7 separate regions of the Homo sapiens genome follow, and regions 1, 2, 3, 4, 6 and 7 are each linked to region 5. The links come from fine-mapping of genetic effects on gene expression. A gene starts in region 5. Each other region holds a variant in brackets. All regions are shown on one strand. Distances are between the middles of the regions. Region 1 overlaps SLC44A5 (solute carrier family 44 member 5). Region 2 overlaps SLC44A5 (solute carrier family 44 member 5). Region 3 overlaps SLC44A5 (solute carrier family 44 member 5). Region 4 overlaps SLC44A5 (solute carrier family 44 member 5). Region 5 holds the start of SLC44A5 (solute carrier family 44 member 5). Region 6 overlaps SLC44A5 (solute carrier family 44 member 5). Region 7 has its middle 35 kb from the start of LHX8.

What was found. PIP is the estimated chance that this variant, and not a neighbour inherited with it, causes the effect. A credible set is the group of variants that fine-mapping cannot tell apart.
Region 1: its variant is the best candidate, but not a certain one, in a credible set for the expression of SLC44A5 in esophagus mucosa (GTEx, PIP 0.65).
Region 2: its variant is the best candidate, but not a certain one, in a credible set for the expression of SLC44A5 in whole blood (TOPMed, PIP 0.88).
Region 3: its variant is the best candidate, but not a certain one, in a credible set for the expression of SLC44A5 in activated CD8 T cells (Schmiedel 2018, PIP 0.60).
Region 4: its variant is the best candidate, but not a certain one, in a credible set for the expression of SLC44A5 in liver (GTEx, PIP 0.57).
Region 6: its variant is the best candidate, but not a certain one, in a credible set for the expression of SLC44A5 in whole blood (INTERVAL, PIP 0.63).
Region 7: its variant is the best candidate, but not a certain one, in a credible set for the expression of SLC44A5 in whole blood (TOPMed, PIP 0.86).

The regions. Positions count from the first base shown.
Region 1 is chr1:75,450,767-75,454,834 of GRCh38, forward strand. The region is part of intron 2 of SLC44A5 (solute carrier family 44 member 5); the gene reads right to left. Among named protein-coding and RNA genes, the nearest start is that of SLC44A5, 160 kb to the right of the region's middle. The variant T/C (reference allele first, on the strand shown) is at 1,689.
Region 2 is chr1:75,461,216-75,465,283 of GRCh38, forward strand. The region is part of intron 2 of SLC44A5 (solute carrier family 44 member 5); the gene reads right to left. Among named protein-coding and RNA genes, the nearest start is that of SLC44A5, 150 kb to the right of the region's middle. The variant G/A (reference allele first, on the strand shown) is at 2,287.
Region 3 is chr1:75,396,636-75,400,703 of GRCh38, forward strand. All of the region lies in intron 2 of SLC44A5 (solute carrier family 44 member 5), which reads right to left. Among named protein-coding and RNA genes, the nearest start is that of SLC44A5, 210 kb to the right of the region's middle. The variant G/C (reference allele first, on the strand shown) is at 2,209.
Region 4 is chr1:75,391,101-75,395,168 of GRCh38, forward strand. The region is part of intron 3 of SLC44A5 (solute carrier family 44 member 5); the gene reads right to left. Among named protein-coding and RNA genes, the nearest start is that of SLC44A5, 220 kb to the right of the region's middle. The variant G/A (reference allele first, on the strand shown) is at 2,007.
Region 5 is chr1:75,608,723-75,612,790 of GRCh38, forward strand. It overlaps SLC44A5 (solute carrier family 44 member 5), which reads right to left and starts at 2,392. Exons shown (of 24, transcript NM_001130058.2): 1 at 2,318-2,392.
Region 6 is chr1:75,373,281-75,377,348 of GRCh38, forward strand. All of the region lies in intron 3 of SLC44A5 (solute carrier family 44 member 5), which reads right to left. Among named protein-coding and RNA genes, the nearest start is that of SLC44A5, 240 kb to the right of the region's middle. RefSeq lists enhancers at 2,184-3,383, 2,228-3,011, 3,012-3,793, 3,794-4,068. The variant A/G (reference allele first, on the strand shown) is at 2,182.
Region 7 is chr1:75,167,207-75,171,274 of GRCh38, forward strand. It overlaps a transcript of LHX8 not described here. Among named protein-coding and RNA genes, the nearest start is that of LHX8, 35 kb to the left of the region's middle. The variant G/A (reference allele first, on the strand shown) is at 2,292.

The DNA of each region.
Region 1 (4,068 bases), 160 kb before region 5:
GCTCACCTGGATCAGCAGCCTGAGCTACACCACTCTTCCTGTGCAAAGATCCTAGTACAGGAAGGCCCTCCCTCCTTCATGCATGGGCAGAACTCCAGGTATTTGGGGCATCCACTCAACTGGTCCAGCCTCCTGAGCCACCCCACCTTTCCTGACTTAGAGTGTGTTACAGCAAGGCCTTCTCTGTTCCACATCCAAGCAGGTCTTTAGGCATCTGGAGCATCCACTGTCTTGGATTAGGAGTTCAGCTCACCCCACAACCCCAGGCAAGGAAGTTGGAGCCAAGGAGGTTTCCCAGCTGCATGCTTAGGCACACCTCTAAGCACTTGGTAGCTACCCACTGGATTCTCCCTTGGGACTGGTGCTTGTGCCTGCCAGCAGGCGACTTCTAGGTGGGCCATCTTGGTCTTGCCCATCATGGCCTCCACTGCCCACCAGAGCTGAGCAGGGAGCTCAGACCACTATGCATTCCATGAATTGGCCCATTATCTGAGGCAACAAAGAGCTTTTGCTAGTAAATAAGGATCAAGTAAGTACCCAGACATGTTAGCCGCAGCCAATTCTTACCTATAAGCACAATCTATGGGCTTGTAGGTTGAACTGCACAGCCCAATATAATACCTGCCAAAAAAATGTGCATAAGGCTATAGAAGCAAAACCAAAGAACCCTACCCAGCATTCTCTACCATCGTACTCCCTAGGAAGGGAAGGGATAGGAAAATGAACAAAAAAATAATAATATTATACAAAAAGAAAAAAATAAAAAATCCTACCAGCATGAAAACAATGACAAAAATTAAAACTAATAGCATCTCCAGATGAGAAGCAACCAGCTGAAGAATTCTGGCACCATGGAAAATCTGAAGGTAGTGTCATCATTAAAAGATTGCATTCTGTCTTCTGAAATTGAAAAACTCACTTAAGGAATTTCAAAATATAAGTGAAAACTATATTGAGAGACTAGACCAAGAAAAAGAAATAATTATTTCAGAACTTGAAGACTGATCTTTCTAACTAAATCAGTCAGACAAAATTTTTTTAAAAAAAATTTTAAAAAGTAAACAAAGTCTTCAAAAAATATGGGATTATTTAAAGCAACCAAACCTATGAATTATTGGCATTCCAGAAAGAAGGAGAAAAAGTAAACAACCTTGAAAACACTTGATCTTAGCCAAAAGGCCAAGAAGCGATACAACCTGGAAAACATATTTGAGGAAATAATTTATAAATATTTCCCTACTCTGCTAGAGAGGGAGGCATCCAGATACAAGAAATCCAGAGAACACCAGTAAGATACTATACAAAACAAACCCCACAAAGGTATATAGTCACCAGACTGTCAAAGGTCAATGCTAAAGAAAAAATCTTAAAGGCAGCTAGAGAAAAAGGTCAGATCACATACAAAGGTAACTCCGTCAGTCTAACGGTGGACTTTTCAGCAGAAACCTTACAAGCCAGGAGAGATTGAGGGCCTATTTTCAGTGTTCTTAAAGATGAGAAATTCTGACCAAGAATTTCATATCCTGCCAAACTACGCTTAATAAACAAAGGAGAAATAAAATCTTTTCCAGACAAGCAAGCACTAAGGGAATTTGCTATCACTAGATCAGTCTTACAAGAGATCCTTAAGAGAGCTCTAAACATGGAAATGACAGAATGATACTTGCTACCACAAACACACACTTAAG[T/C]ACAGAGCCCACAGACCCTGTAAAGCCCCCACACAATAGAAAGTAAAAAGCAACCAGCTAACAACTTCATAATAGGATCAAAACCTCACATATCAATATTAATCTTAAATGTAAATAGTCTAAATTCCTCAGTTAAAAGGCAAAGAGTGGCAAGTTGAATAAGTAAACCAGACACATCTGTCTATTACCTTCAAGAGACCTATCTCACTTGTAATGACACCCATAGGCTCTAAGTAAAGGGTTGGAGAAAGATTTATCATCCAAATGAAAAAAGAGCAGAGGTCACTACACTTACATCCGATAAAACAGACTTTAAACTAGCAACAAACAAGGGCAAAGGGGGGCATTACAAAATTATTAGGGATTCAACTCAACAAGAAGATGTAACTATCCTAAATCTATATGCACCCAAGATTGGAGCACACAGAATCATAAAACAAGTACTTCTAGACCTATGAAAAGACTTAAACAGCCACATAATAGTGAGGGACTTCAGCTTCCCACCAAAAACACTATTCAGACCATCAAGGCAGAAAACTAACAAAGAAATTCTAGACTAAAAGTTCAACACTTCACCAATTAGACCTAATAGTCATCTACAGAATACTCCATCTAGCAACCACAGAATATATATTCTTCTCATTTGCACACAGAAATTAATCCAAGACGGACCACATTCTTGATCATAAAGCAGTCTCAATAAATTTTCAAAAACTGAACTCATACTTTATCTCAGACCATAGTGGAATAAAAATATAAATCAATACCAAGAAGATCTCTCAAAACCACACAATTACATAGAAATTAAACAACTTGCTGTTCAATAACTTCTAGGTAAGCAATTAAAGTAATGGAGAAATCAATAAATTCTTTGAAATAAAATGAAAACAGAGACACAACATAACCAAATGTCTGGGATGCAACAAAAGTAGTGTTAAGAGGAAAGTTTACAGTACTAAACACCTACATCAAAAAGTTAGAAAGATCTCAAATTAATAATCTAACATCACATCTAGAGGAACTAGAAAAACAAGAACAAATTAACCCCAAACCTAACGGAAGAAAAGAAATAACTAAAATCAGAGAATAACTAATTGAAATTGAGACCCAATTGAGACCCTTTGAAATTGATACAAAGGATCAATGAAACCAAAAGTTGCTTATTTGAAAGGATACCCAAGATCAATAGACCACTAGCTAGATGAACAAAGAAAAATAGAGTGAGGATACAAACGAGCTCAATCACCAGCGACAATGATGACATTACAGCCAATCCCATAGAAATACAAAAGACCCTCAGAGACTATTCTGAATACCTTTATGCACAGAAACTAGAAAATCTAGAGGAAATGTATAAATGCCTTGAAACACACATTCTCCCAAGATTGAATCAGGAAAAAATTGAAATCCTGAACAGATCAATATCAAGTGCTGAAATCGAATCAGTAATGAAATAGCTACCAATGAAAAGAAGCCCTAGGCAAGATGAACTCACAGCCAAATTCTATCAGACATACAAAGAGGAGCTGCTACCAATTCTACTGAAACTATCCCATAAAATTGAGGGAGAGGGACTCTTCCCTAACTCATTCAATGAAGCCATCCTCACCCTGATCCCAATGTGTGTGAGGACACAACGAAAAAAGAAAACTATAGGCCAATATTCCTGATTAACACAGATATAAAAATCCTCAACAAAACACTAGCAACATGAATCCAGCATCACATTAAAAAATGTAATTCTCCATGATCAAGTGGGCTTCATTTTTGGTATACAAGTTGGTTCAACATGCGCAAATCAATAAATGTGATTCATCTTATAAACAGAATTAAAAATAAAAATAACATATGGTCATCTCAATAAATGCAGAAAAAGCTTTGATGAAATCCAACCTCACTTTATGATTAAAACCCTTAAGAAACAAGGCATTCGAGGAACATATCTCAAAATAATAAGAGCCATCTATGAAAACCCACAGCCAACATCATACTGAATAGGCAAAAGCTGGAAACATTCCCCTTGAGAACTGAAAGAGACAAAGATGCCCACTTTTACCACTCCTAGTCAAAATAGAACTAGAAGTGCTAGCCAGAGCAATCAGATAAGAGAAATAAATAAAAAGTATCCAAATAGGAGAAGTCAAACTCTCTCCCCACAGATAATATAATTCTATACCTAGAAAACCCTAAAGAATCCCCCAAAAGGCTCCTAGACCTGATAAACAACTTCAGTAAAATTTCAGGATACAAAATAAATGTACAAAAATCAGTACCATTTCTATACATCAAAAATATTCAAGCTGAGAGCCAAATCAGGAACATAATTTTAATTAAAATAATAGCACAAAAATATTTAGAAATGCATCCAACCATGGTGGTT
Region 2 (4,068 bases), 150 kb before region 5:
AATTAATTCCACAGATAATCGAGCACATTACTACTATACATCAGGTATGAAAATAGTTTTAAAATTGTTCCCTAACCATTTTCATCTCTGACAATTTTCACATGCACCTTTCTCCCTGTAAGATAATATTATTTAGGTCACAACCTTCACACACGTGTTATCTTAATTGAATCCTTATAAAATCCAAAGAGGTAAATAATATTATTAGTTCACTGGAGTAACTATTAATATTATTATGAGTGGTGTGTCTCAGGACATTAGATATATTTAATTGTGTTTTGAGGATCCCATTTGTCCAAGTCAACCAAGTCACCAAATTTTGCTAGCCACGGTGACTAAATAGCTCTTTCCTAGCAAAAGAAAACATAAAATTCTCATTATTGAGTTACTGTCTAGGCCAGCACTGTCCAATAAAAATACAAAGCAAACCCTTGGATAGCATTTCTGAAACTGCTCTCGGCCAGAGGAGTGCCTACTACCCTAAAGAGTGAGTCCAAGGCCAGGCAGCATTCACAATAAGCTGACTAAAAAGCCCTTGGGCCTTAGGGGGAACATTGGTAGTAATCTGCCAGTACTCCTCATGGCCTGGAGTGGTGGTGGGTATGGGATAAGACTCCTCTGCCTTTGGAAAGGGGAGGGAAAAATGGAAAGTACAATAGAACATCAGATGGCCTTTTAAGGTTTTTGACTCTAGTTCCTGGCTCCCAAACAACACCTATGGACCCTCCTGGGTCCTGGAGAAAATCACAATCCTGCAGGGAAGGACGCAGGCCTGGCTGACTTTGCCACCTGCTGACTGTAGAGCCCTATGGCACTGAGCAAACATAGGCCATAGCCAGGGAGTAGTTAAGCAGGCCTTGGGCAAGACCCAGTGCTGTGCTGGCTTCAGGTCTGACCCAGGACATTCCTAGCGGTAGTAGCCAAAGGGTGCTTATGTCACTCCACCCCCATCTCCAGTTGACTCAGAACAAAGATATAAACTCTGTTTGTTTGGGAGAAAGTAAGGGAAGAGAACAAGAGTCTGCCTGGTAATCCAAAGAATTCTCCCAGTGCTTGTCCAAGAACATCAAGGTGGCACCTCTACACGTCTGCAAGAACCACAGTGTTACTGGACTTTGGGTACCCCCTAAAACAAATACAGCTTAGATCACAACACTTACGTCTTTTAGAATACCTGGAAAGCCCTCCCAAGAAAGACTGGTACAAGAAAGCCCACACTGAGAAGACTAGAATAAATACTTAACTCTTCAATGCCCAGACACAGATGAACATCTGCAAGAATGAAGACAATCCATGAAAACACAACATCACCAAATGAACTAAATAACGCATCAGGGACCAGTCCTGGAGAAACAGATATGCGACCTTTCAGACAAAGAATTCAAAAGCTGTTTTGAGGAAATGCAATGAAATTCAAGATAACGCAGAGAAGGAATTCAAAATGCTATCAGAAAAAATTTAACAAAGAGATTGAAATAATTAAAAAGAATCAAGCAGAAATTCTGGAGCTGAAAAGTGCAATTGACATACTGAAGGATGCATCACAGTCTTTTAATAACAGAAATGATCAAGCAGAAGAATGAATTAGTGAGCTTGAAGACAGGCTATTTGAAAATACATAGAAGAGACAAAAGAAAACAGAATTTTTTTAAAAAAATGAAGCACACCTGCGATATCTAGAAAATAGCTTCAAGAGGGCAAATCTAATAGTTATTGGCTTTAAAGAGAAGGTAGAGAAAGGAATAGGAGTAGAAAGTTTATTCAAAGGGAAAATGACAGAGAACTTCCCAAACCTGGAGAAAGATATCAATATTCAAGGACAAGAAGGTTATAGAACATCAAGCAGATTTAACCCAAAGAAGTCTGTCTCAAGGCATTTAACAATCAAATTCCCAAAGATCAAGGATTAATAAAAAAAGATCCTGGCTGGGCACGGTGGCTCACGCCTGTAATCCCAGTACTTTGGAAGGCCGAGGCAGGCGGATCACAAGGTCAGGAGATCGAGACCATCTTGGCTAACACGGTGAAACCCCGTCTCTACTAAAAATACAAAAATTAGCTGGGCGCGGTGGCAGGCGCCTGTAGTCCCAGCTACTCGGGAGGCTGAGGCAGGAGAATGGCGTGAACCTGGGAGGCGGAGCTTGCAGTGAGCCGAGATTGTGCCACTGCACTCCAGCCTGGGCTAAAGAGCGGGACTCTGTCTCAAAAAAAAAAAAAAAAAAAAAAAGATCCTAAAAGCAACAACAGAAAAGAAACAAATAACGTACAATGGAGCTCCAATATGTC[G/A]GGCAGCAGATTTTTCAGTGGAAATCTTACAGGCCAGGAAAGAGTGCATGATATATTTAAAGCAATAAAGGAAAAAATTTTTACCCTAGAATAGTATATATCTGGTGAAAATATCCTTCAAACATAAAGGAGAAATAAAGACTTCCCCAGACAAACAAAAGCTGAGGGATTTCATCAATACTAGACTCATCCTGCAAGAAATGTTAAAGGGAGTACTTCACTTAGAAAGAAAGGAATGTTAATTAGTAATAAGAAATCATCTGAAGTTACAAAACTCACTGGTAATAGTAAGTACACAGAAAAACACAGAATATTACAACACTGTAACTGTGGTGTGTAAACTACTGTTATCCTAAGTAGAAAGCCTAAACAATGAACCAAACAAAAACAATAACAACTTTTTGAGACATAGCACAATAAGATATAAATAGAAACAAGAGGCCGGGCGCAGTGGCTCATGCCTGTAATCCCAGCACTTTGAGAGGCCAAGGCAGGAGGTTTATGAGGTCAGGAAATCAAGATCATCCTGGCTAACATGGTGAAATCCCATCTCTACTAAAAGCACAAAAAATTAGCTGGGCATGGTGGCATGCACCTGTAGTCCTAGCTACTCGGGAGGCTGAGGCAGGAGAATCACTTGAACCTGGAAGGTGGAGGTTGCAGTGAACCGAGATTGCACCACTGCACTCCAGCCTGGGCGACAGAGTGAGACTCTGTCTCAAAAAAAAAAAAAAAAAAAAAAGCAAGAAAGAAGAAAAAGGTAAAAAGCAGGAGGACAAAGCTAAGGCATAGAGTCTTTATTTGTTTTCTTTTTGCTTGTTTGTTTATGAAACAGTGTTGGTATCAGCTTAAAATATGAGTTATAAGATAGTATTTGCAAGCCTCATGGTAACCTCAAACCAGAAAACATACAATGGATACACAAAAAATAAGCAAGAAATTAAATCACATCACCAGAGAAAATCGCCTTCATTAAAAGGAAGGAAAGGGAAGAAAAGACCACAAAACAAGCAGAAAACATAGAACAAAATGACAGAAGTCCTTATTTATTAATAATAACGTTGAATGTAAATGGACTAAACTCTTCAGTCAAAATATACTGACTGAATGGATGGGAAAAAAAAGAAGTAATAACCTGTTGCCTACAAAAAATACACACATAAACTGAAAATAAAGGGATGGGAAAAGATATCCCATGCTATTGGAAACCAAAAGACAGCAGGAGTCACTATGCTTGTATCAGACAAAATAGATTTCAAGACAAAAACTATATGAAGAGACAAAGGTCTCTGTATAATGATAAAGGAGTCAATTCAGCTAGAGAATATAACAATTTTAAATATATATGCACCCAACACTGGAGCACCCAGATACATAAAGCAAATATTATTACAGCTAAAGAAAGAGAGAGGCCCCAGTACAATATACAATAATAGCTGGAAACTTTAACACCTCACTTTCAGCCTTGGACAGATATTCTAGACAGAAAATCAACAAAGAAACATCATACTTCATCTGCACTATAGACCAAATGGATCTAATAGATATTTACAGAACATTTTATCCAAGAGCTACAGAATACACATTTTTTGTTCATCAGCACATGGATCATTCTCAATGACAGACCTTATGTTAGGTCACAAAACTAGTCTTAAAATATTTTTAAATGAAATAATATCAGTCATCTTCTCTGTACACAATGGAATAAAACTAGAAATCAACAACAAGAAGAATCTTGGAAACTATACAAATGCATGGAAATTAAACAATATGCTCCTGGAT
Region 3 (4,068 bases), 210 kb before region 5:
AAAAGGCAAAAAAAATATTTGTAGGGGCTGATGACTCTGAGGTTCTATACACATCTCTCCTTATCCTAAAAAATCTTAGTCTTTAGACTAACACACAAAATAACATAAGGCAGTTGGACTGGTTGAAGTAATTCTTTATACACAAAGCTGCCAATAATGAGCATTTATTCTTAAGAAGTTACCAAAAAAATAATTCATGAAGGTGCTGGAGGTAAGAGGTTTGGGGATGATGAAATAAAGCTGTTAATTCTTCCATTTGCATCTATGACTTGTATAATGTAGGTGATATGTAGAGACTTGAAAAATTCATTACTAAGAAATGAGGCATTTTGTTTACTTTCATTTTCTGTTCCTGCTTTAAACTTCAGAAGACACATTAGTCATGAAAAACTTAATATGCATTAAATACCTTTTATTACATGCAGAATAGCCAGTGTAGCCTAGGGAAAAGAGATATATTTTGAATTCAGCAGTCCCACCTTAATCACACTACGTGTGGCCTTTAGCTTTAACAGAAACTCCCATGTGATAACTATGAATGACTCTATTCAATTTGGAAGGTACAAATTATGGTAATTTTGGGGAATGGGGAGGTGGCACGTGCCATAATGAACAATAACAGCATCCTAATGCTTCAAGTGTCACATATGTTAAACAAAAACACTAATGCTTTCTATGAACACCCCATTCTCTGGTGCTTTATCAGACTTGCCAACTCATTAATTAGAGCTATTGAAAAGAATTCCGTCTATAGACCTCATGGGCAGAGATTACAATGCTTGGTTTCCCCATTGATTTTTCATCAATCGGACTAACAGTAGCAAATCATTGAGAGTCAGAGTTGGGGTAAAGATTCCAGGGAAAGCGAACATTTGTAAATTGTGTTCCTTTGGGAAAAATAATAATAACGATAATTAAAATAGTAACCAACTTTTGAACACTTACTATGCACCAGGTGCCATGTTTCATTTATGTTATCTCATTTAATATTCACAACAAGCCTTGCAGTAGTTACAATAATCGGTTCACTTCTAAAAATGAGAATCCAAGGTTCCCAGAGGCAACGTGAACTTTTGGGTCTAATCTTTGTTTAAAGTCACACTGCTAGTAAGTGGGGAACCTGGAATTCAAACTTAGGTCTGTGTGCTCCAGAGTCCATTTGTAATCAATATAACTACTAGCCTCCAGTAATGTCAAATGTATGAGAAAAATAAAGATTACTCATAACATTTTCAGGATATTCCCCACCACCACACACACACCTTTAAAACTAGCAATGCTGACCCACATTCATTAGGATGGTAAGCATTATTAGGGACATACAGGTTTCACACTTACCATTTAAAAAGCTAAATGAAGTGCCCAAAATATAAAATGGCCATCCCTTGCTGATTTTCTTAAAATAGTATGTACGTGCAAGGATTGGCACCTGAGAGGTAGAATAAAATGAATAAAATGTCAAGATACAATACGGACTACCTTTTTCCTGTTCCTGGGCCCTAAATGACTGAGTTTGCCTTTAATGTTCCGAATACATTTTTAAAAAACAACAAAATTCGAGGTTCATGGTTATCTTAAAAGGTTACATGTCATAGCTTTTTGTATCATGCACTTCTAATCACATTTTAGCTTATATAATAACAGTGGTCAGCCTCTGCCTCCAGCCCTCTACTCCAATTTTCTCCAGCTCCCTCAGCTATATAAACTAGTAAATTTCACCTGCAGACCCAGTCCCATTTGGAATCAGTGCCGGGTATAGCAGGAAGCATGTCAGTAATCTCAGACCCTGCCAATGAGAGGAGAAGGGAACTGGTAGTTACTATAATGTAGGTGTTTCACAGATGAAGTTAAATCCTCTTAACAACCATACACTGTATCATATACCCCATTTTACACTTGAGAATACTGAAACTAGGCTGGTGAAAATATTTGACCAACGTTGTACCTTGTCATTGGTTAAGGAACAAACAAAGCAAACAAAGAAAGCAGGATCTAGGTGGTCTCCATCTCCCAGGCTAAATTCCATACAGTATAGTTTTGACTCCTCTTTCTCAATTTTGCATAATGAATCAAAAAAAGCAAAGTTCATATTTTGGCATGATCAGTTTACAAGATGGTTGAGCCTGCTTTCTGTAACAGCTTATGTCTTTTTCAAAACTTGTTTAGGAGAACATTCGTATCTTATGTAGGCTGCCTTCTGGTGTCTGC[G/C]TAAGATACCAAAGCCATACTATTTTGACCTTGACAACAACTGGGAAGACTGGAATCTAGTGTGAGAGAAGTTCTTGGACATTCACCCTGCCTGCTTATATCTAGTATAGTAAATTTAGAATGAAGTTTCAGACTAGGAGCCAAAAGAGTCATACTTTCCAGTTTTATTGCTGGGCCTTTTACCACACTTCATTCCCTTTTGTCTTTCTTGCTTGGAAGGTCTGTTCAGGGGGATGAGAACTGGTAGGAGATGGAGGTGGAGGAGGGGGTAGCAATGAGTGGAACGCATTGATGTGAGTCCTGCTCCTATTGTGTCATCCTGAGACCTTATTAAAAAGAAGCAAGACCCTAGACCCATAATCAAGCACAGCATCACTAATGATGGGTCAACCGGATGTTGTTTCTCCTGATGTAAGGCAATAGAGTTTATACGGCATACCTAGCTAGTATGTATTCTGGCTGAAAATACCCAACAGGAGCCACCACCAATGATTTATATTTAATCTAACCTACACATAAGAAATAAAGAAGATAAATAAACTAAATGAAATCACTGGAAAGGAACTAAACAAATCCAGAAAGTGAGATATTCTCGAGGGCAATAGGTCAGTGTCAGAGGAAAAGGGGAGTGTGCTAATCAGAAGAGACTTCAGGGACATAGCTACCAGATGCAAGGTCTGGCCCTGGATTAGACCCTGATTTGGACAGAATGTGGTAAATACAGTGTTGGGGGACAATTGGGGCAATCTGAATTAGAATGAATATTAGCTAAATTTAACATTTGTTGTAATGGAAAGATGGAAAATCTTAACAGAAAAAAAGCAGGTAGCAAAAAGCATGTAAAAGCAAAATCTCATTATTGTAAAAAAATTGTATATCTGGAAGGAAATATAAGAACGGTTTTATCAGTGGTGATTAAAATATGTTGCTTTATTTAGTTAAATTTTACTTTGATGTTTTCTTTGACTTTCTGTAATGCATGTAAAACTGCTTTTATAAGCAATCTACAGATCTTTTTACAAAAAAATACCTGCACTCATATGTTTATTGCAGAACTGTTCGAAATACCAAAGTTATTGAATCAACCTAAGTGTTCACCAACAGTAGGTTAGATAAAGAAAATGTGGTACATACACAACCATGGAATACTAAGCCGCTGTTAAAAAGAATGAAATCATGTCCATAGCAGCAACGTGGGTGAAGCTGGAGGCCATTATCCAAAGTGAATCAGCACAGAAACCGAAAATCAAGCACCACATTTTCTCACTTACAAGTGGGAGCTAAACCAAGGGAATATGTAGACATAAAGATGAAAACAATAGACATTCATGACTCTAAGAAAGGAGAGGAAAGGATGGGGATACAAGGGTTGACAAACAACATATTAGGTACTATGTTCACTATATTTGGGTGATGGGTTCCATAAAAGTCCAAACCCCAGCATTATGCAATATACTCACATAACAAACCTGCACATGTATCCCTGAATCTGTAATTGTATAAAACCTGCTCTTACAGTAATAAAAATTATTTTAATTAAAAATAGTTACTTTGAAATGGAAGTGCATGGGTCCTTCTCACAGAGCCTATTTTTTAGTACTCAGAATACATAACTAGTAGGTAGAATCTTCAGGAATCAAACCCAAAGGTTACGCATTTTTAAGTACGACCTTTACTTCTATTCACTCTTTGGGCTTCAGGTGCCAGGGATGAGTCCCTGCACTCATTTAACATTTGAGTTGCTCTAGCATTCTTGTCACTGTCAGCAGCTTTCCCTCACCCCCTGTGTTGGGCTCATCAATGTGAAAGTCTGGGCTTCTGCCTTAGTTGCTTTGCCCAGGGCTCCATTCCCCTTTCCTG
Region 4 (4,068 bases), 220 kb before region 5:
AAATAAAATAAAATACCTAGGAATACATTTAACCAATGGTGTAAAATAGAGAACTACAAGGAGAACTACCAAACACTGCTGAAAGAAATCATAGATGACACAATCAAATGAAAAAATGAAAAAATATTCCTTGCACATAGATTGGAAGAATCAATATTGTTTAAATGGCCATACTGCCCAAAGCAATATACAGATTCAACATTATGCCTATCAAACCACCAACACCATTTTTTGCAGAATTAGAAAAAACTAATCTAAAATTTATATAAAACCAAAAAAGAGCCCAAATAGCCAAAGCATCCTAAACAAAAAGAACAAAGTTGGCATCACATTACCCAACTTCAGACATCACATTACCTAATTTCAAACTATACTATAAGGCTACAGTAATCAAAACAGCATGGTACTGACATAAAAACAGACGTATAGACCCATGGAATAGAATAGAGAACTCAGAAATAAAGCTGCACTCCTACAACCAACTGACTTTCAACAAAGCCAACAATAATAAGCAATAAGGAAAGGACTCCCTGTTTAATAAATGGTGTTGTGGTAGCTGGCTATCCATATGCAAAAGAAAGAAACTAGACCTCCTACCTATCACCATATACAAAACTTAACTCGTGATGGATTGAATATTTAAATGTAAGACCTCAAACTATAAGAATACTAGAACACCACCTAGGAAATAACCTTCTAGACATTGGTCTTGGCAAAGAATTTAGAACTAAGTCCACAAAAGCAATTTTAACAACAACGACAAAAAAATTAAGCCAGGCACAGTGGCTCACACCTGTAATCCCAGCACTTTGGGAGGCCAAGATGGGTGGATTGCTTGAGTCTGGAAGTTTGAGACCAGCCTGGGCAACATAGTGAGACCCCCATCTCTACAAAAAGCATAGAAATTAGCCAGGCATCGTGGCACATAGTCCCAACTACTCAGAAGGCCAAGATGGAAGGATTACTGGAGCCTAGGAAGGTCTATGCTGCAGTGAGCCATGATCACGCCACTGTACTTCAGCCTGAGGGACAGAATGGGAACCTGTCTCAAAAAAAAAAATTGACAAGTGGGACCTAATTAAACTGAAGAGCTTCTGCACAGCAAGAGAAACTATCAACAGGTAAAGAGACAACTGACATAATGGGATAAAATATTAATAGCAAACTATGCACCCAACAAAGGTCTAATATCCAGAATCTATAAGGAACTTAACCAAACAAGTAAAAAACAATTCCATTAAAAGGTGGACAAGATACTTCAAAAAGAAGATATACAAGTGGCCAAGAAACAAACGAAAAAAATGCTTCACATCATGCATCATCAGAGAAATGCAAATCAAAACCACAAAGCAATACCATCTCACACCAGTGAGAGTGGTAATTATAAAAAAGTTAAAAAATAACAGATGTTGGTGAGTACACAGAGAAAAAGGAACTCTTTATGCTGTTGGTAGGAATGTAAATGAGTTCAGTCACTGTGGAAAGCAGTTTGGAGATTTCTCAAAGAAGCAAAAATAGAACTACTGCTCAACCTAGCAATCCCATTGCTTGGTATATATCCAAAGGAAAAGAAATTGTTCTACCAAAAAGACACCTGCACTTGTATGTTTATTGCACCAGGATTCACAATAGCAAAGATATGGAATCAAACTAGGTGCCCATCAACAGTGGAATGGATAAAGAAACTGTGGTACATATACACCAGGGAATACTATGCAGCCACAAAAAGAGAGAAATTATGTCCTTTGAAGCAACATGGATGTAGGTGGAGGCCATCATCCTAAGTTAATTGATGCAGAAATAGAAAGCCAAACACTGCATATTTTCCCGTATAAGTGGGAGCTAAACATTGGGTACATACAGACATAAACATGGGAACAATAGACACTAGGGACTATAAGATGGGAGTGAGGATGGGGACAAGGGTTGAAAATCAACCTATTGGGTACTCTGCTCACTATTTGGGTGACAGATTCTACCTCAATAGTTCTATCCCAAACCCTCAC[G/A]TCATGCAATATACTCTTGTAACAAGCCTGCACATGTGCCCTCTGAATCTAAAATAAAATTTGAAATTCAAAGAATAAGATAGAAAAATATCTAAACACTGTTTTCATTGTCTCGCATGTCATGCAGATCTTTGCCTAAAAAAGCTGGAAAGCCATCTCAACTTTCTTTGATTTGGCTAAGGAAGTGTTATTTGAAGGATTATTATGAAACAAGTATTGATACCTCATTTAAAAAGACTCTCTGTATACATACACATATGCCCATACATATGTATACATATGACAATGTAATCATGTTTTATGTTATTACAAAGGGTTAAAAACTCTTCTTTATCCTGTATACTTTAAAGTAATATATGTTTATGTTAGGTTATAAATAAAGATTTTGACATGTCAGAATCAAATTGGTAGGGGCAAAGTAGCCAATATCCAAAATGGCATACTGTACTTTAGGCTAATATATTTGCTTTTGTGGTTTGATAATTATGTACTATAAATTAGATAAAATGTGATAAATGAAAAAAGTAATATTGACTCATTAGAATTGTGCTTTGAGCATTTTAAATAGCAGTTGGTTATTTATTTGCTCACTTCACAACTTGATTTTGAAAATAGGAACTGTAATTATAAACAGATTTGTCTGATTATTTTGTGGAGAATAGACCAGAGTAGGGTAATAGCTGCAGATAAAAATGAGTTAGGAGGTAATGGTAGGTATCTAACTGAGAAATAACAGTTGTTTGAATGAAGCAATTTAGTGGAGATGGTGAGTGGTGATGCCCTTATTAGAGAAAGGAAGGTAGACACAAGAGCAGATTTGGTGGGGTATAAAGTCAAATAAATAAGTCCAGGGCAAGAAAGAGCAATCAGGGCTAGAGATGTAAATCTAGGACTTAACAGCACATTCATGGTATTTAAAACTATGGGATCAGATACAATTACCTAGAAAAGTCAGAGAAAATGCATCCTGGGGGCTCTCCAACACCCAGACTTTAAGTGTGAGCGACTGGCCAGAGAAGGAGAGATCAGAGAGTCAGGAGGAAACCCAGGAGAGTGTGGTATCTTGGAAGCAGAAGAGGAAAGTTTAAAAAAGTAGAGTGGCTGAGCATGCTAAATGCTGCTGAGAGAGAGTAAGGTGAGGAAAAGAATTCTGTAATGGAAGAGCAAGATACAAGTCTGTGGAAATGATAAAAAACTGTTTCATGAAGTAATGCAGATACAACTCCAGTTGGAGTGGGTTAATGAGAGAATAGGAGAAAAGTGGAGTCAATGCCTATAAACAATTCTTTTGAGTTTTAGCGTGATGAAAGGGTTAATTGATCATTTTTTTTAAATAAATTTCAGGCGGCTGTATTAAGGCATATTTACATGTAGGCAAGAGAGAGAGGGGATAATTGCAAGAGCAAAGTCTTTGAAGAGGCAATGCTGATAGAGGTACTATGAGCCTTGGAAAGGATGAGGTCAACCCTTCCCTGTAACAGAAGAGGAAGTGAAACGAGCCACTGGCTTTGGTGGGCCTCAGCTTCTTTGGAACACAAGGCTGTTGAAGAATGTGTCCTATGGGTTAACACCAATAACACTCCAGTTCTCCCAAGCTTACCCCCATTGTTAGCACAGTTAAGCTTTCTTTAATATCAGGCTCTTAAAAAGAAGTGTAAATGTGGAGTGAATGAACCAAAAAGAAAAGACAAAAATGCCATCATCCACCCAATTGAAATCCAAGGCCTGTTTATCCACTCACCCCTGAATACTGAGTGCACCCCAGATCTTAGGATCTGGGAGTGTTTCCCTCTGCTGAGATGCACTTTTAGTGGATGCAAAACCAACAGTTCCTCCTGGGCCATGACTCAGCAGAGTTATCCCAGTAATACCTTGTCTGGGAGAATGGAAATGGCATAGTACAATATCCTATATTGAACCTTTCCTCTTTCTTTTACTTCTGTCCATTCAAGCAGAAGCAGCACTCAGTGGTACTTCTCTCCTTGGGCTACTTTATATCAGAAGTGGAGTGTTTTTCCTCATTAGCTTATTTATCTCATAAACCTTGTGAGAAAGATGAGGG
Region 5 (4,068 bases):
GGTCTTTGCTCTGGCTTTTCCTTCCTTCTGGAAGTCTCCTCCCCTTCCACTGCTTCATGTCCTTCAATATTACCTCGTCAATTGGTCCTACCCTAACCACCCTATTAATACTTGCAGCTGGCCCACCATCATCCCATGATTAGCAATCCAAATCCCCCTTACTATGCTCATTTTTTTTTCTTTCTGTCATGGCACTTTTCAATTTTTAATATCAACAATGTATTCATGCTTATTATTCATTGTTTGTCTTCCCTATGTATAGTGTAAACCTCATGAAGAATTCATTTTGTTCCCTGATTTATCCCAAGCATGCTTAGAATAGTGCCCAGTACATAGTAAGCGATTGATTAACACTTATTGAATGAATAGAGAACTACATGAACGAATAAAATAGATTAATATCCTACTCTCAAGTAGAAGAGACGGCAACCTTCCTTTCTTAAATCCTCTTTCTCAGTCTCCTATTTATACCTCAAAGGACTAACTGGGCTGGGAGGAGGAAGGGATTCTTTGGTAAGGAGGAATAGATAAATACAGCTGGAAAGGTTTTTATTTGAATATTTTAGGGTTTCATTTCTTTGGGTTTTTTCTTTTTTAATTGGCAAGTAAAAATTTATATATTTATGGTGTGAAACCTGATGTTTTGATATATATACACATTGTGGAATGGCTAAATCAAGCTATTTAACATATTCATTACCTTACATTCTTATTTTTGATGGTGAGAATAAAAGATTGTAGATTTTAAGAAACTTTCTATCTTCTTAGTTTGGAGGACTGTGAAATCTTGTGCTGTTGGGAGATTTTAGGGCTTTTGTATTCTCTTTATCACTCTGATTTTTGGTTCGGTAGTGCTTCAATTTGGAAAGTATCTTCTAAACTAAATGAACTAGAGGAGCCAGGAATCAGTACTCAAAAAAGCAGAGGAGAAAGCAAGCTGCTACAAGAAACTCAAGGGAAACAAGAAAAGAGAACTTCAGGGTTTCAGCCCAATTCACTAAATAGGAAAGAGGGCTAAGATTCAAGATCAGTGTTGGAACTAGTAACAAATATTACATTTCATGATAGAGGTGCAAAAATAATGAACCACAGGTATATTCATGATCTAATGTTATGTAACCTATTACCCCCAAATTTTAGTGGTTTAAGACAAGAGTAAGCATTTATTATATCTTATGGTTTCTGTGATTCAGGAATCCAGAAGCAGCTTGATTGGATAGCTCTGGGTCGGGGCTATCATGAAATTCAGTCAGATGTTGGCTGAAGCTACAGTCATCTGAAGGCTTGACTTGGTTGCAGGGTCTGTTCCCAAGATAGATCACTCACATAACTAGCAAGTTGTTGCTATTAGCAGGAGGCCTCAGTTCTTCCCACACAGAGCTAAGATTCAAGACTTCTATGCAAGTCAAGAAATACACACACACACACACACACACACACACACACACACACATAGTGAAGTCTGAATATAAATTAGGAACTGAGCTCTTCTTCTCTCTCCATAGGTATATACATATACATACATATACCTATATACACATAGATATCCTGGAGAATTATTTAGAGAGAGCAATATTTCTACATCAGCTCCCTAGGCCAAGTAAGGTGACCCAATGGACTTCACTTTTCTAAAAAGTGCAGTTATACTTATGTATCTTCTCTTACTATTCATCAAAATACCGACAATATTTTGGGCTGAAATGTTAATAATATCTGTATGAACCTCTGCTTCAAAAAATAATCCAAGGGATCCTTGAGTATTTTTAAAACATGGCATCTGGTTTCCCCAAAATGAGCAACATAAGAAAGCAAAGAATACAAAAGAACAAGGCAGAAGCCATAGTGTATGTCTTTATGATGTAGTTTTCTGCTGTACAGTACTGATCACATGGTCAGCTGTGATTCATTTTGGAAGGGGAGTATGAACAGGTGTGAATACCAGTAGGTAAGGATTCCTAGAGATGTTATCAACATCTCAGCCCGAAATATTGTCGATATTTTGGTGAATATTAAGAGAAGATACATAAGTGTAACTGGACTTTTTAGAAAAGTGAAGTCCATTGGGTCACCTTACTTGGCCTAGGGAGCTGATGTAAAAATACTACTCTCTTTAAATAATCCCCCAGGATATCTATATATATACACACACACACACGGAGAGGAAGTGCTCAGTTCCTAATTTATATTCAGACTTCACTATATATATGTGTGTGTGTGTGTGTATTTCTTGAGTTGTATAGAATACGTACTTATGAATAACAAACTTGACCAATTTTCCTACAGACATAGACTTCTTGCATTTAGCAGTATCACTCACCTCTTACTCCATCATTTCTTCAATAACTCCATCAACACTGAACCTTCTAACTCTAACATGCTACGATTCACTACTGTGAAAAAAAAGCTGATGTCATAAACACATTGTGTTCCAGTATCACTAAGGGCCATACCCCATTCTTAGGTAATCCCTGAGGTCCTACTAGCCTTGCTAGCCTCAAAGGAGTCACTTGGAGTATAAAGAGGGGGAGGAGACTGAACAAAGTCCTGGAGCTATAGTATATTTTTTCATTGTTAATCCTTGGCAAAGAAGTAGGTAGTTTGGAGGTGGAAGTAGGCCATGATTACCTTTAAAATAATCTACTATTATTTGTGTCTTTCCTGAATATCATAGCACCTTCTTGTCACAAATGCTTAGGGGAAAGAAAATCATCCAATATACCCCATATCCCACTTACCAACATCTCTACAGTAAAATGAGACCCAAGAGCATGATTTCCTTAACTAGCTATCAAGCAACTACCTCCAACAAACAGCAGTTATCATTAATATGTTCATGCTATTTTCATTTGTGAGGTCTGTAATCCATCAGAACAACCTGACAGTGATTAAGTAAAATCAAAGAGACTTTGTAAACATCTGTGTGCTTTTATTGTTACAAATGCTTCATTATAAAAAGATCAGTCAAAAGCATAAAAGTACCCTGGTTTAAACTTTTTCTGTGTTTGAATGAGAATGTTTCTCTTGGAACATGCTCATATCAGGCTTCCACTTGGCAAAATCACGAATTGGCTGATGTTGTTTTAGAGGCTTTCTCATGTCCCCTTCCAAACATCACTCTTCTCCTTCTGTGGACCCCTTTCTGTTATCTAGGAGCCCCTCATGCTGCCTTCCACATTCTGCCTACTGCACAGTCATGTTCTGGACCCCTCAGAATCCCCCTCTACCATTACAATATGTTTTTCCTAAGACTTACTTGCATTGAAAGGCTTGCCAGGGAAGTGACTAATCTTATCATCTTGTACTAAATGTTAAATTAATCCTCATTCTCTCTAGAATTGTTTTCTAAGCAGGGATTCCTAGAGATGCTATCAATATCTCAGCCTGAAATTGCATAGGTATTCTGGTGAATAGCAAGAGAAAATAACGTGAGTATAACTGGACCTTTTAGAAAAGTGAAGTCTATTAGGTCACCTTAGTTGGCCTAGGGAGTTGATGTAGGAATGCTCCTCTCCCTGAAATAATCTTCCAGGAGAGGAATGTATCCCCAAATAGCAAGTGAATATCCAATGGCTTCTCATTGCACTTAAACTCTATATTCCTTTTTATGACCAAAAAGGCCTGGCTTCTCCCTAACTGTCTCTTCCTTACACATTACACCTCTTCCTTTTGTATGTGAATGTGCCAAGCTACCACCTCATTTCTACCTTAAGGCCTGAAGTGTTATGTTCCAGTTCTTGGCATGCAAATTACTCTTCATCACTTGTTTCCCGACACAAATGCCACCTTTCCAGACAATCTAAAGTAACCTCAAAATCATTTGCTCGCACATCACTTTGTTTTATTTCTCCTGGTATTAATCACTATGTGAAATTTTCTGGTTCATATTATTTGTCACCTGCTTCTTCCAGGCCTCCTCTTACTTCATTGTCTATCATGTTCATTACCGTATCCCTAGTGTTTTGCACAGAATCTGGTACATATTCAGTGCTCAATAAATATGTGCTAAATGAATAAATGAATAAATTAACCTAAACATAAGTTTTACACTTAAGTAATTGAGCAAGAAGT
Region 6 (4,068 bases), 240 kb before region 5:
TGGGAAGCCTGCATGGAGTCACCGAGCACCAAGACCAGCTCCTGGCCCTCAACAGGTCCTAAGGAAGGGGTGAGTAAAGGAACTCCAAGGCACCACACCCCAAATACAACCCTCTGGGATCCTAGAGACAAGAGATCCCATTACCCCCACAGACATTTGAATTGGCAGGAGGAACTTCTTAGAGACCAGACAGAGGCAGAGATTGAACCTGCATAGAACCCTGAAGGTTTCAAGGTGGCACGTGGTGCAGCAGCAACTAAACGTGACTTCAGGCATTTATCCCAGAAGGCTCTCTATCTTGCTCTGAGTGACTGTAGCTCCTGCTGACTGTTCGGCCAGGAGAGAGCAAGGCTGCCTTTCCTGCAGGAGCAGGGCACATCTGATCCACACGCTGCCTTGTCCACCAGTCCCTCCTAAGACAACCTGCCTGGCTACTCCTGCAGGAGGTTGCCCACAGCACAGCCTCTACTGCCCCACCTGAGTGTTTTGCCAGCTGTCTGGGAGGAGTTAAACTCCCCCAGCACAGCTGGCACTCAACCCTGAGGGTTCAGAGGACAAAACTACTGGCCGAGTCCCTACCCCCCAGGATTCAAGCACACTACCCAGGGGCATCAAGCTGAGATCTGTGGCCTGAGCTCAGGTTGGGGAGGAGCCCCCACTCTCAGAACACTGAGGGAGTGTGGCCTGTGCTCATGTGGTGGCATGGGAGCTGGTCATCCCTCCCTCCACCAGACCAGTCCAGAAAGGGTGTAGCCTGTTAGCTGCAGCTTCTGCCCCAAGGAGCCCTGCAGCCTAGAACATTTTGGAACAGCAAGTGACCTGAATGCAGAAGGCTTGGGACAAGTCTAGCTGGTTGGGCCTGTTCTTACGCAGGCATCAGAGGGAGACCCAGTAGAAGGGGTGCAAGCTGAGCAGGTCCCACAATCATCCTCTGGGCTAAAATCCCTGGCCACAGTCAACACACAAGCTGAATACCTGTGGTACCACCACTCTCCCTCAGGATCCTCCACTCTTGACCCACTGAATCACCAGACTACCTGCAGACATACCTCACAACCTCCTTGGACTCTGCCAGGCTTAGAGGACCAGTAGGTCTCCAGGGAATTGTGGGTCTCCTGGTGACCTAACACTTGGCACAGACCACACCTAAGAAGGTGTGGAGAAGGTAGCCCACCAAAGCCCCACTTGATGCTAAGGAAATGCAGGCGTGATGCCAGTAACTGCAGGGTACTCCACTAAGGCCTGTAGACAAACTTGGTGAGGAAGTCATCTTTTGCCCCCCATTCCCCTCCCCAGGGCACCGCTGCACATGCACTGAAACACACAAGAGGCATGTGGCTAAGAGCCTATCTGCCAGCCCTGACTCTTAAGCACTATCTACTGGATTGCAACCTGAATCACACCGGGAAGCAAAAATACATCCCTTCAGCGCTCAATGCCTGGAGACCCATGCAGGAAAGGATCCACAACTGAGGAACTCTACACAGCCTTGGCCCTCTAAAAGCACATAGAAATGAAGCCAGTACTATACACAACATACACCACAGTCAAACACAAAAATTATTATAAAAACAAAAAGTCCCATCCAAATGACGGCAATTTCAAAAAGAAATACTGGCCCCCTCATATGAGAAGCAATCAGTGCAAGAACTCTAGCAATTTAAAAAGTCAGAGTGTTTCCTTACCTCTAAAGGATTGCACTATCTCTCCAGCAATGGATCCTAACCAGATTGAAATGTCTGAAACAACTGACATAGAATTCAGAATATGGATGGCCAAGAAAGCTCAACGAGATTCAAGAGAAAATTAAAACCCAATCCAAGAAAACTCAAAAAATGATCCAAGTATCGAAAGACAACAGAGCCATTTTAAGTAAGAACCAAACTCAACTTCTGGAATTGAAAATTTCACTATAGAAATTTCAAAATACAGCTGAAAGTCTTAATAACAGATTAGACCAAGCTGAGGAAAGAATTTCAGAGCTTGAAGATCAGTCTTCCAAATCAACTCAGTCAGACAAAAACAAATAAAAAAGAATAATTTAAAAATAGACAAACCCTCTAGAGACTATACGTGTGACTCACTGGCATGTCTGAGAGAGAAGAGAGAGTAAGCAACTTGGAAAACATATCTGAGGATACAATCCACAACAATTTCCCCAATTTTGCGAAAGAAGTTGAC[A/G]TGTAAGTTCAAGAAATTCAGAGAATCTTTGTGAGACATTATACAAGGTGACCTTCCTCAAGACACATAATCATCAGAATTTTCAAAGTCAACAAGAAAAGAAATCTTAAAGGCAACTGTAGAAAAGGGTCATATCACTTTTCTATCACTGTTCACAAAGGGAACCCCATCAGGTGAACAGTGGACTTCTCAGCAGAAACCTTACAAGCCAGAATAGACCTGGAGGCCTATTTTTAGCATTCTTGAAGTAAAGAAATACCAACCAAGTATTTTGTATCTCACCAAACTAATTTTCATAACAGAAGGAGAAAGACAATTTTTCCCGAACAAGCAATCACTAAGAAAATTCATTACCACTGAATCGTGGAGGAGCCAAGATGGCCGAATAGGAACAGCTCCTGTCTACAGCTCCCAGCGTGAGTGACACAGAAGATGGGTGATTTCTGCATTTCCATCTGAGGTACCGGGTTCATCTCACTTGGGAGTGCCAGGCAGTGGGCGCAGGTCAGTGGGTGTGTGCACCGTGTGCGAGCCGAAGCAGGGCGAGGCATTGCCTCACTTGGGAAGTGCAAGGGGTCAGGGAGTTCCCTTTCCAAGTCAAAGAAAGGGGTGACGGACGCACCTGGAAAATTGGGTCACTCCCACCCAAATACTGCGCTTTTCCGACCGGCTTAAAAAACGGCGCACGACGAGATTATATCCCACACCTGGCTCAGAGGGTCCTACGCCCATGGAGTCTCGCTGATTGCTAGCACAGCAGTCTGAGATCAAACTGCAAGGCGGCAGCGAGGCTGGGGGAGGGGCGCCCGCCATTGCCCAGGCTTGCCTAGGTAAACAAAGCAGCCAGGAAGCTCCAACTGGGTGGAGCCCACCACAGCTCAAGGAGGCCTGCCTGCCTCTGTAGGCTCCACCCCTGGGGGCAGGGCACAGACAAACAAAAAGACAGCAGTAACCTCTGCAGACTTAAATGTCCCTGTCTGACAGCTTTGAAGAGAGCAGTGGTTCTCCCAGCACGCAGCTGGAGATCTGAGAACGGGCAGACTGCCTCCTCAAGAGGGTCCCTAAACCCCGAGCAGCCTAACTGGGAGGCACCCCCCAGCAGGGGCACACTGACACCTCACACGGCAGGGTACTCCAACAGACCTGCAGCTGAGGGTCCTGTCTGTTAGAAGGAAAACTAACAAACAGAAAGGACATCCACACCAAAAACCCATCTGTACATCACCATCATCAAAGACCAAAAGTAGATAAAACCACAAAGATGGGGAAAAAACAGAGCAGAAAAACTGGAAACTCTAAAAAGCAGAGCGCCTCTCCTCCAAAGGAACGCAGTTCCTCACCAGCAATGGAACAAAGCTGGATGGAGAATGACTTTGACAAGCTGAGAGCAGAAGGCTTCAGACGATCAAATTACTCTGAGCTACGGGAGGACATTCAAACCAAAGGCAAAGAAGTTGAAAACTTTGAAAAAAATTTAGAAGAATGTAAAACTAGAATAACCAATACAGAGAAGTGCTTAAAGGAGCTGATGGAGCTGAAAACCAAGGCTCGAGAACTACGTGAAGAATGAAGAAGCCTCAGGAGTCGATGCTATCAACTGGAAGAAAGGGTATCAGCAATGGAATGTGGGGAAAAGCAAGAGAGATCAGATTGTTACTGTGTCTGTGTAGAAAGAAGTAGACATAGGAGACTCCATTTTGTTATGTACTAAGAAAAATTCTTCTGCCTTGAGATTCTGTTAATCTATAACCTTACCCCCAACCCCGTGCTCTCTGAAACGTGTGCTGTGTCAACTCAGAGTTAAATGGATTAAGGGCGGTGCAAGATGTGCTTTGTTAAACAGATGCTTGAAGGCAGCATGCTCCTTAAGAGTCATCACCACTCCCT
Region 7 (4,068 bases), 440 kb before region 5:
TTTGCCACATCCCACCATGGTGACTGTGGGCAAGTTATTAAACTGCGCTGTGCCAGAGTTTTCTCATATGCAAAATGGACTAATAATAGCACTTTTCCCAAATGGTTATTGTGACCCTGTGATAAGATAGTACATATAAAGTACTTAGAAAAGTATCTGGTGCACAATAAACCCTGAAAGTTATCTGTATTTATTCCTTGGTAAACTAACTCCTAACACCAGAGGAAAAAAAATGCCACCATCTTTCACTAGCTTTCCCTCTCCTTTCTCCATTTCTCTTTTCCTGACTAACAATTCCTCATCATCCAGGACCAAGCTCAAATATCATCCCCTCCAGGAAGCCTGCCCTGATTGTTCCCCACACCCCACCCCAATGTGGGTGAGTTCTTTGTGTTCCCATCATTTCCTCAAAGGATATCTCTACACTTTAATAAGTTTTATTATAATTTTCCTTCCTCAGTTTTGTCTCAAGATTAGACTAGAGACCCTAGACTATTCATGTTAGGGTTTCTAGGAGCTAGCACAGGGCATTGACAGAGCAGTCTCTTGCCATGGTTAATTTACTCCATGCCAGGATCCCAGGGACAGCCTTTCCCCAGCAACTCCTCAGCCTGGGCTACACGATGGCCCATGGAAGTTCTCTGCCTCAGATGGAACTGTTTCTTGTTCTCTTCGACTAAGCAAAACAGACAGGTTGGGTCATTATCGAGTAATTCAGGCAAGAGAAGCAGCCAAACACATGTTTTTATCTGAGTTACCCAAATTGGCTGACTCCCCAGCCTGCAGTTACTGGGTAATTGCTCAATCTTCCATTTGGCTTTTACTGTGTAAATGTGGCTGCAGAGTCTTTTTATTTCTCTCGAATGGCTCCTCCCATTTTCTGTCTAATATAGGTTAAAATGTAAAGTTTTCTTTTTCCTCTGCCCGCAGTAGCTGTCTAGGCCATCAGCACACCTTGCTTCATTAGCCTTCAAAGTGGGCCAGAATGGTCGGATAGGTATCTAGTCATAGTTTTCTGTTTGTTTGTTTGTTTTAGACAGAGTTTCACTCTTGTTGCCCAGGCTGGAGTGCAATGGTGTGGTCTCGGCTCACTGCAACCTCTGCCTCCTGGGTTCAAACTACTCTCCTGCCTCAGCCTCCCAAGTAGCTGGAATTACAGGCACCCACCTCCACACTTGGCTAATTTTTACATTGTTTTTTAGTAGAGATGGGGTTTCACCATGTTTGCCAGGCTGGTCTTGAGCTCCTGATCGTAGATGATCCACCTGCCTCAGCCTCCCAAAGTGCTGGGATTACAGGCGTGAGCCACTGCACCTGGCCTGGTCATTGTTTTCAATTTGTCCTGGATAATCTGCTGTCAACCCCTCTTTTTTTTTAAAGAGAGAGGACGCACAGGAAACACATAACTCAGTCATATGTTTCACACACTGGGAGCTTTTCCTGTTCTGGCCTCAGGTGCAGGAATTCTGAAATCCCTTTCTCAGAAGCTATGACCACAGCTCACTGTAGTTTGTGGAAAGCTCACAGGGTCTGCTTTCAAGTAGTTAGAGCCTGGTTCCAATTCCAGTCCAGCCTCTTACTACCTATGTAACCGTGGGCATATCACTTACCAATTCATCATATGCTGCTTGTTTTACCCTTGAAATGTCTCTAGAATTTACCTGCTTCCCCACATCTTTGCCATTCCTACCTACTGCAAAACATCATCTCCCACCTGGACTATTAAAATACCTACACAACTTGTTCCGGGCTTCCACCCCTTTCCCCCTAAAATATGTTCAAAAAGATGTGTTTAAAACCTAAATTAGAACTTTTCTGTTGAAACCCCCCCTGTGGCTTTCCTTCATATTAAGAAGAAAATGTAACATCCTTTGTGGCCTTGAAGGGCACTTTTCATGGGGTGGCCACTTCACACCCATGCACCCCATTACTTTCTGCCTTCATCTCCTACCCTCTCCCCTACTCCCCTACTCATTCACTTGCTCTCTTGCTTCCAGTCACACTGGCCTCCCAAGCTATACGCAAGTGGGCAGGATAAAGTAGTGTTTATGAGATTTGGAATGAGACAGCTTGACTCTGCCATTTTTCTGGCTGCATGGCCTTGTTGCTTAATCTCACGGAGCCTGTTTCTCTTCTGTAAATGAGCACACCACTACCCACTTTGCAGGGTTACCCTGAGGATTAAATGAGATATTAAATATAATGCAGTTGAGCACAGTATTTGGCATATTGTCAACCCTACGTCAAGAAGTGGTGGCTACTGAAGTGAGGTGTGAATGAGGAGAGTGGGC[G/A]GTGGAGGTGGGTGGGTGCTCTGAAGTGGAAAAGGGGCTCTAGAGCTTTCCCTAGAACAGGATAACCCTTTCCCTCACAAACCGTACTCCAATTTCAAGCCCAATTTCTGCTGAAGTTCAGCTCAAGCCCTTTCTTTTGATGTTCTTAGTAGAAATATTTAAACTATCACTGAGCCATCCCAATGAACTGTTGATTTCCCCTGCATACTCACTCTGCCAGCCCACAGCTCCATTGCTCTGGTCTGGAGAAGGCCAAGCCCTTGAAAAATTTATTCCCCAGAAGCCTGATTGATCTTGATTGCCTTTCGTGGCCCTACTCCAAGTTCTCCATATCACTACTCAGCTGTGGGTCCCATTTAATAAAGGCACCACAAATGTGGAGGGGGAACTCCTGGTCTTTGCCAGTGAAACTGGCTCACTTTTCAGGCTTCATGGTGCTACCCTGGTTCCACTGTTGGATGAACACTCTAGGAGCCTGCCAGCTATGCCAGCTCTGCCAGCTCCATTTTTTCCTTTTCAGCAGATACCCCAGGTCTATGTTGCCAGAGAAATGGCCACTATGTGCTGTTTGGATTCTTACCTCTATGCTAACATGAATCCACACTGTCATGCCTGCTGAATCATTTTTCTCTGCTCAGCTGAAAACTCAAGACTTCAGTGCTTCTGGGCTACGATTTCTTTTGGACTATCGAGTACAAGAACCTGTGGATTTTAGACCAGTCACCTTGTATGGTAATTGAAATTTTAACAAGCTAAATGAGTAAGTGATATAAAATTCTGTTTAATATTAACTCTTTAACCCAGGGAGTTAGGTAAGTGCCACCCACTGGGCCTAAATCATAGCACAAAATCACTCAGTTGCTCAGTTGGCCAGCAAGTCAAGCAAAAAAGACAAAAACAAAAGCAAAAACAAACACAAAGCCAGCTTCCCTATAAACTACTTTGATCAGCTTTTTAAGCTTTCCCAAACTGACCATATTATTTAATTGTTAAGAGAACCTGTGGACCTTGGGACACAGGAACTGCAGAGTGCTTAAAAATCACTGAAACACATGAGCTATCTATTTCTTTACAAACCAATGACTAAAAAGGATAATAAGTTTTAAATCAGGCTGTAATTCAGTGGCTCTCAAATTTTAAGATACTCAAGAGTCAACTGGAGACTGGGGAGGTATTAGAAATGGTCAGTCTCAGAGATTCTGATTTGTCACATCTGGGGTAAGGATCAGAAGTCTCTGTCTCTCCTAAGCTTCCTGGAAGAATTTTGCAGCAGATGGTCAGAGATCACACTTTGAGAAACCCTGAGACTGTAGGAGGGAGTTGCTAATTCACACCATATTTGCTCTCATTAATCTACTGTTTATTTTTCTAGTGTCTGCTGTGAGCTGGGGGCTTAAAGTACACTATATTTACTCTTTACAACATTGCCGCATGGTATATTATTATCATTCCCACTTTACAGATGATACAATTGAGGCTCAGCACGGCCAAATAACTCACCTGGTGGGCTGGGATTTGAACTCAGGTCTTTAATTTCTTTTTTCACCACATATGATACAGTGAAAGTTGAGAATGAGGGAGGCAGGTGGCCTGGGAACAAGCCAACTTAAGGCACGCTCAGAGCTTAACCAGCCCTGGCAGGTCAAAAAGTTAGAATAATTAGATCTATTTTGTTTACACCAAAATTCCTTTTGTTGATTTTTTTTTAATTCCATGAAATCTTTTACCAAAATGTTATTTGGCATTATGCAGTTGCCAAAATGTGAGTTAATCATTT